Homo sapiens: one gene and its partner. The protein of the gene in region 1 purifies or fractionates together with the protein of each later gene. This does not show direct contact. Each region holds a gene or a part of one and is shown on either strand. Other genes may lie near its edges. The genes, in order: SPATA6L and GOLGA3.

Region 1 (3,818 bases):
CTGTAGTCCCAGCTACGGGGGAGGCTGAGGCATGCAAATCGCCTGAGCCTGGGAGGTCAAGGCTGCAGTGAGCCAAGATGGCTCCACTGCACTCCAGCCTGGGTGACAAGAGTGAGACTCCATCTCAGAAAAAAATAATGATAAATAAATAAATAATAAACATAAAATAAAAATTTAGAAATTTTAATTTTTTATGGGTACGTAGTACCTGTATATATTTATGGGGTACATGAGATATTTTGATATAGGCATACAGTATGTAATAATCACATCAAGGTAAATGGTGTATCCATCACCTAAAACATTTATCTTTTGAGTTACAAACAATCCAATTATATTCTTTTAGTTATTTTAAAATTTACAGTTAAATTATTATCGACTATAGTCACCCTGTTGTTCTATCAAATACTAGATCTTATTCATTCTTTGTATTTTTTTTTTGTGCCCTTTAACCATCCCCACTCCCCCTCAGCTCTCATGACCCTTCCCAGCCTCTGGTAACCATCATTCTACTCTCTGTCTCCATGAGTTCAATTGTTTTAATCTTTAGCTCCCACAAATAAGTGAGAATATATAAAGTTTGTCTTTCTGTGCCTGGCTTATTTCACTTGATATAATGGCCTCAACTTCCATCCACGTTGTTGCAAGACATAAAAAATAATGGCTGAATAGCACTCCATTATGTGTATGTAATATAATTTCTTTATCCATTCATCTGTTGATGGACACTTAGGTTGATTCCAAATCTTGGCTATTGTGAATAGTGCTGCAGTAAACATGGGGCCACCTTTCTTTTGCTGAGGCTGATGCTCGGATTGTATTCATGGTCCGTCTTTGGTAAGCGTGAAGCGTCTTAGGGCATCCATGTGTACTACCTCAATTTTACTTGCTTCTTCAGTCCTAGTGTCTGCCTCCCTCACCCCAATTTCTTTCTGTTTTGCTTTTACCTTATTGCATATAATGTTGTTGCCACTTAAAATCCTTTCTAGAACAAGATGGAGAAGGAATAAAGGTAGTTTGTGAAGCTTCTCCAAATACTTTGGGACAGGGTAGAGTAAAACCTGTAAGTGAAACAAAATGCTTATCCCAGATCTCATGTAGGGTCCTAGAAAAGACCTTGAAAATGTGGGCTGTATGTTACAGAATACTTAATGAGAAAGAAGGGCCAATAATCTGTGCAAATCTATCAAAACTCTTAGCTAAATAACTCATATAATGGGAGACCAATGATTAATTTTAAGGAAGGCATTATCTGCTTTTTAGTTTTGCCTTATTTATCCTCTCTTCTCTCCAATTTATTTGTGATGTGTTCATAGCAATTTTTCAGTGTTTCTTTCTCTTCCATTCTACCATCTTAATGCTGTTTTAACTTCCTAGGTCCTTCTTTCAGTGTTAACTTTTTAAACAAATAGTTTTATTGTTTTTTTTCTTGAACTCCTGGCCTCAAGAGATCCTCTGCTTCAGCCTCCCTACGTGTTGGGATTACAGGCATGAGCCACCACACTGTCTGTTTTTTTTTCCCTTAAAACAAAAGTATCACTTTATGTTAGAAAATTAGAAAACAAAGATAAATAAGCAAAAAGGACCCAAAACTTAAAAAAAACTGTCTCATTCTTGCCATTTAGAGATCAGCATTAATTTTTTTAGTATATTCTGTACACACATCACACTTTTAAAAAAGATTGAGATCACGCTGCATTGCATATTATTTTGTACCCTTCTTTTTTTTACTTAATTTATGATAAACATTTTCTCATGTCCTCAGGTACTCTTGTGCCAGACAATTTTTCATGGCTTCATAGTATTCCATTGTATGGAAGTACTGTAATCTGTCTGGCCATTCATTTTCCTTTTGTTGAGCACTTAACTGATATATCAGCCAGGGTCCAGTCAGGAAACCACACCAAACTTGTGACTGTAACAGAAAGATTTAATTTTTAAAAATGGCTAAACAGGGGTTGAAAGAAAGACTGAAAGATAAAAGGGGAACACTGAAATGACAGAGTAACTGCAGGAAGCAGCTTCCACCCCTAGGGCTGGGGAAACAAAGGGAAGATGTTGGTTCAGCAAGAACACAGAAGCTTAAAGAAGAAACTGAACAGAAATGGGACCCAGACCTCTGGAGAAGGGCTGCTTTCCTGGATGCTTCTTCAGGAATTCGAAGGTGGGACTTGGATGAGCTGGAACTCAGATCTCAAAGGAGGGGCACTGCTCACTGCTGGTGCCACAGGAGCTTGGAGGAAGGTTCCTGTGGGTCTAGACTCAAATCTGAACAGGGGGCTCTGGTCAGCTGCCGCTGATATGTCTGGAGGAGTGCAATGGGGCTAGTCCTGGCATAATAGGGGAAAGGCTATAATCTGGAGCCATTTGCAGCTGTTAAGGCGAAGAATGGTTGCAGGAATGATGCTAACAGGAATAGAATGCAAAACTGGAAGTAGCCAGTCACTGTGTCTCCTCCAGCCTTGCACTTTCTCTAGCACCTTCCAGTGGCAGAGCCTACAGAGACCAGGTGGAAAAGCAAAAAAGGGAGTTTGTAGAGTCCCTGGACCAGTATTATATAGCTGAGGTGGATTTGCAACTGAGCGCAATTGCTTACTCACCAATACAGCTGGTTTCTAACTTTTAAACTATCATAAGCATTTTTGTAGCTATACATATAGCCATAGTTATTTCCTTATAATACATTCCTGGAAGTGAAATTGCTAGACCCCTCTATGTGTCAAATTCTCTATTATCTATCTATTGGAGGTGTCTGACACTTTCTAACTTCCCCCTATTATAAATAAATCTCACTGTTAATTAGTTGAATACATTATACTAGCAAGTTATAAATACTACTGATGTTAAACTGAACAGGAAAAAAATTAGAGAAATGTCCTTCTTAAGTTTATGTTTTATAAATCTGAGGTGTGTTATCTTTGACCTTAATTTTTAAAAATTCAATTAAATACAGTTATATTCTGATTGAATTTTCTTCTTTTCTTTCTTTATTTTAAAAAATATTCTTTTTTTGTTTATTTCAGGAAGAAAGACATGAGTCACGGAGGCCTTTATCTACATCACATGAACCAATATTTCCCTTAAATACTATAAAGATGAAACTAAAGGAGAATAATCTCAACAGACTGCCCAAAGGCATGCAAGCCCGGGCGCCCTCTCAATATTCTACCAGGCATTTCTTCCAGGACCAGCCAGCTCAGTTGAACCTTGGAAATAATTTCAAAATCTCTGGAGGAAGCAAGCCTCCATTTGTTGTTAGACACGTGAGCCTAAAATTATTTTTTAGAGCATTTTGCAATAGTGAGGATATGGATGAGGGTGGAAGAAAGGAAGGTTGAGTTATAACAACAAATGAATAATATTCAATAAAAAGGTACTTCAAATTGAATAATAATTGTGATTAAATTATGTTCATTTCCTAGATCGTTGTCAGGAAACCCCTAGAAAGGTACCTTATACAGGGGACTTGCTCAGTAAATGTCAGCCATCCCTATTTTTAATTTTTGAAAATTATTAACAGAGTATAATGCCTACACATGATAACTTGCCATTATCTTGAAGAGTCAATGAACTGACAGAGGTTGCAAATGCATAATGAAGGTTGGCACACACTCTATATCAATCCAAAACTAAAGCTTCATCAGTTTTAAAGAAAACTACATGAGTTTTATTAATGAGATTGGTGCTTAGTGGCCATATATTGAAGAGCCAGAAAAGTTTTATTTGTAGGAAGAAGCAATGTTGTGCGATACTCAAAGCCCTTAATTAAAGTCATCTTAGATTTTGTCCTCAGGTAGTGGTAGGCAAATTTAGTCACA
Region 2 (3,818 bases), on another chromosome or scaffold:
TGATGACAGCCTGCTGGGTAAAGGCCTGGGTTGGACCAGTGACAATTCTATACCCACGTGTTACCTCAGTTCACCCACTAAAATGATTATATACAAATTACCCACAACACAAACTAAAACATATTTCCTCATCAAATGGAACAAAGAAAGATTTCTTTCAATGAAGTGATTTTCAGTCTTTTCCCTGCCCCCTAACTGCTGACTGGTGGGTGGGCCAGTTCACAGTCAAAGAACCAAGACATGTGAGGGGGGAGGGAGGGTCCTCAGGGGGTTCTGGTCCTGGTTCCGGTGGCTCTGGAGGCCCGGCAACACCTCCGTGTCTCACAGGGGTCAGCATTCCTCGGATCCCACGTGCATGCAGGACAGCAAATTTGCTTTTTGCTCAAGCAAATTAAAAATGAGTTTCTTAGCCGGGCGCGGTGGCTCACGCCTGTAATCCCAGCACTTTGGGAAGCTGAGGCAGGTGGATCACGAGGTCAGGAGATCGAGACTATCCTGGCTAACACGGCGAAACCCCGTCTCTACTAAAAATACAAAGACTTAGCTGGGCGTGGTGGCGGGCGCCTATAGTCCCAGCTACTTGGGAGGCTGAGGCAGAAGAATGGCGTGAACCCTCGAAGTGGAGCTTGCAGTAAGCTGAGGTCGTGCCACTGCACTCCAGTCTGGGCAACAGAGCGAGACTCCGTCTCAAAAAAAGAAAAGGTTTCTTTCACTTGCAAATGTGAGTTCAAACTAACAGCAGATACTTACTGTCATGCCTCCCGAAAGAAAAACCAGAATAAAAGCAGGGGTGCCAGACAGGAAGCCAGACCACGGGCACCCGACCAACGCACTGAGACGCCTTTCATGCAAAGGACCCGTGAGCTCCACTGCTGGGAGAGGGGGAACCTTGCATTTCAGATAAAAGTTACTGGGTTAGGCCGGGCGCAGTGGCTCACACCTGTAATCCCAGCACTTTGGGAGGCCGAGGTGGAAGGATAACTCAAGGCCAGGAATTCAAGACCAGCCCGGGCAACAGCAAGACTGTTTATACAAAAAGTTTTTAAAATGAGCCAGGCAACAGGGCGCGGTGGCTCACGCCTGCAATCCCAGCACTTTGGGAGGCCAAGGTGGGGGGATCACCAGAGATTGGGAGTTCAAAACCAGCCTGATCAACATGGAAACTCCATCTCTACTAAAAATACAAAATTAGCTGGGCGTGGTGGCACATGCCTGTAATCCCAGCTACTCAGGAGGCTGAGGCAGAAGATCGCTTGAACCCGGGAGGCGGAGGTTGCCATGAGCCGAGATCGCACCATTGCACTACAGCCTGGACAACAACAGCAAAACTCCGTCTCAAAAAAAAAAAAATCAGCTAGGCGTGCTGACACGCATCGATAGTCACCGCTACCCCAGAGACCAAGGCAGGAGGATCACTTAAGCCCAGGAGTTCATGGCTGCCGTGAGCTATGATTACACCACTGCACTTCAGCCTGCTCAATGGAGCAACACCCTGACTCTAAAAACAGTAATAAAATGTTTAAAATAGAAAAAGGGGCGGAGGCTGAGATTAACCCAGCGTCTTGCTCGAGGGCACATTGCTCCTGAGCAGCAGATCTAAGAGCAGGTTCCACGGCCGCGGGTCTCAGAACTCTTGATCTTGGGCCTCTAAGTTGTTATCTGCCTCACCTGATGCTTATGTAGCAAGGACCAGCAAAGCCATCCTAAGCGCCTGAGTATCATTTTACAGGAATTAGACTGTGACTTCTGCTAGTAAATTAGCACATCTGTAGTCTACAGTTTTAAAGCACTGAACCTCCTGGCCAGGAAGAGGCATGAGAACTGAGTGAATAACTAAGTCACCCTTTCCCTCTGACACGTGAATAACCCAGGGGGCTAACATAACACTGTGCTCCGTAATCCTTAGATCTCTACGGGACGACTTCTGAATTCTAGCTATTACAAATTCAGCAACTGACCAATCAAAAAGGCAGAATTCGGCCAGGCACAGTGGCTCACTCCTGTAATCCCAGCACTTTTTGGGGCTGAGGTGGGTGGATCATTTGAGATCAGGAGTTCGAGACCAGCCTGGCCAACATGGTGAAACCCCGTCTCTACTAAAAATACAAAAAATAGCTGGGTGTGGTGGCAGGTGCCTGTAGTCCCAGCTACTCGGGAGGCTGAAGCAGGAGAATCGCTTGAACCCAGGAGGCAGAGGTTGCAGTGAGCTGAGATGGTGCCACTGCACTCCAGCCTGGGCGACAGAACAGGACACCGTCTCAAAAAAAAAAAAAAAAAAAAAAAATGGCTGGGCGCAGTGGCTCACGCCTGTAATCTCAGCACTTTGGGATGCCAAGGTGGGCGGATCACCTGAGGTTGGGAGTTCGTGGCCAGCCTGACCAACATGGAGAAACCTCATCTCTACTAAAAATACAAAAAATAGCTGGGCGTGGTAGCGCATGCCTGTAATCCCAGCTACTCGGGAGGCTGAGGCAGAAGAATTGCTTGAACCCGGGAAGTGGAGGTTGCAGTGAAACGAGATCTCGCCATTGCACTCCAGCCCGGGCACCCAGAGCAAAACTCCACGTCGAAAAAAAAAAAAGGTAGAATTTTAGGCAGGGAACATGATAAAGACCCATAGATCCCTTCAGGGAAACACTGCTGCTGCCCCACACGTTTAATGGAGTTCTGTTTAGCAGGAATGTGCCTGATCTAAAGGTGGCATCATTCAGTTACTAAAACATACTTTGGGCCGGGCACAGTGGCTCACACCTGTAATCCCAGCACTTTGAGGCTGAGGCTGAGGCGGGCGGATCACGAAGTCAGGAGATCGAGACCATCTTGGCTAACACGGTGAAACCCCGTCTCTACTAAAAATACAAAAAATTAGCCGGGCGCGGTGGCGGGCGCCTGTAATCCCAGCTACTCAGGAGGCTGGGGCAAGAGAATGGCATGAACCCGGGAGGCGGAGCTTGCAGCGAGCCGAGATCACGCCACTGCAGTCCAGCCTGGGCGAAAGAGCGAGACTCCGTCTCAAAAAAAAAAAAAAAAAAAAACAACTTTGAATTAAGTGAAAAGCTCACAGTGGTCTCAACGCCACATCCTCCCTCAACACCACGTCCTCCCTCAACACCAGGTCCTCCTGTGACCAGCACACAGAGGAACCTCACGACTTACACTGGACTTTGTCCTGCTGGTCAGGTGGCACCAGTGGGCCCGGGGGCTTCAGTGGGGCCTCGGGGAGAGACGAGGGGCCACTGTGGGATCTGTCCTCCTGGAGGCCATCTTGCTCGGCCGACGCGCCGTCCATGGTCAGGACGACACCAGCTGAGCTGACGCTGAGGGGCTACAAGTGAACCTTGGACAAGCTTGGCTTCTGCCATCAGCAACAGCCAAGAGCTCCTGGGAGGGGCCCTACTGTGTCTCCCATTTTCAGGAGAAGATCTGATGACTCACAAATGACTTGATGTCAAACCAGCTAATATCATGATACCTGACAGGAGAGAGAGACAAAATGTATTATGAAACTTGTCAGATTTCAAGTATCAATTACAAAATTAGCATTTGGTTCCCAATTTGCATACGTACAAGAAACAAATACAAACTTTTTCATTCAGCAAATAATCCTGGAGCACCCACAACATCCTAGGTTTTGAGGCTAAGATGCTGACCCAGCCACACTGGGCCCTTTCCTGAAGGAGCTTAATGTCTGTATCGGTGCCAACTAAAGAACATTCTGCTGGGACAGCGCAGCTCTGAATCTGTGGAGTAGGTGTCACACAGGGCAACTGAGCTTTAAATTTTATTTAAAATTAATTTGGGCCAGGCGCGGTGGCTCA

What was found.
Region 2: the proteins of SPATA6L (region 1) and GOLGA3 purify together in Homo sapiens (affinity purification with mass spectrometry; 2 studies listed by BioGRID and IntAct, with this or other methods). This does not show direct contact.

What each region holds. Positions count from the first base shown.
Region 1 is NC_000009.12:4,624,772-4,628,589, reverse strand, and holds part of SPATA6L (spermatogenesis associated 6-like protein), read left to right. Parts: intron 1-733; exon of another isoform or gene 734-837; intron 838-1,530; exon of another isoform or gene 1,531-2,104; coding exon of another isoform or gene 2,105-2,164; intron 2,165-3,023; coding exon 3,024-3,263; intron 3,264-3,818.
Region 2 is NC_000012.12:132,818,840-132,822,657, forward strand, and holds part of GOLGA3 (golgin subfamily A member 3), read right to left. Parts: intron 3,473-3,818; 5' UTR 3,290-3,472; coding exon 3,157-3,289; intron 1-3,156. UniProt on the Homo sapiens protein: Golgi auto-antigen; probably involved in maintaining Golgi structure.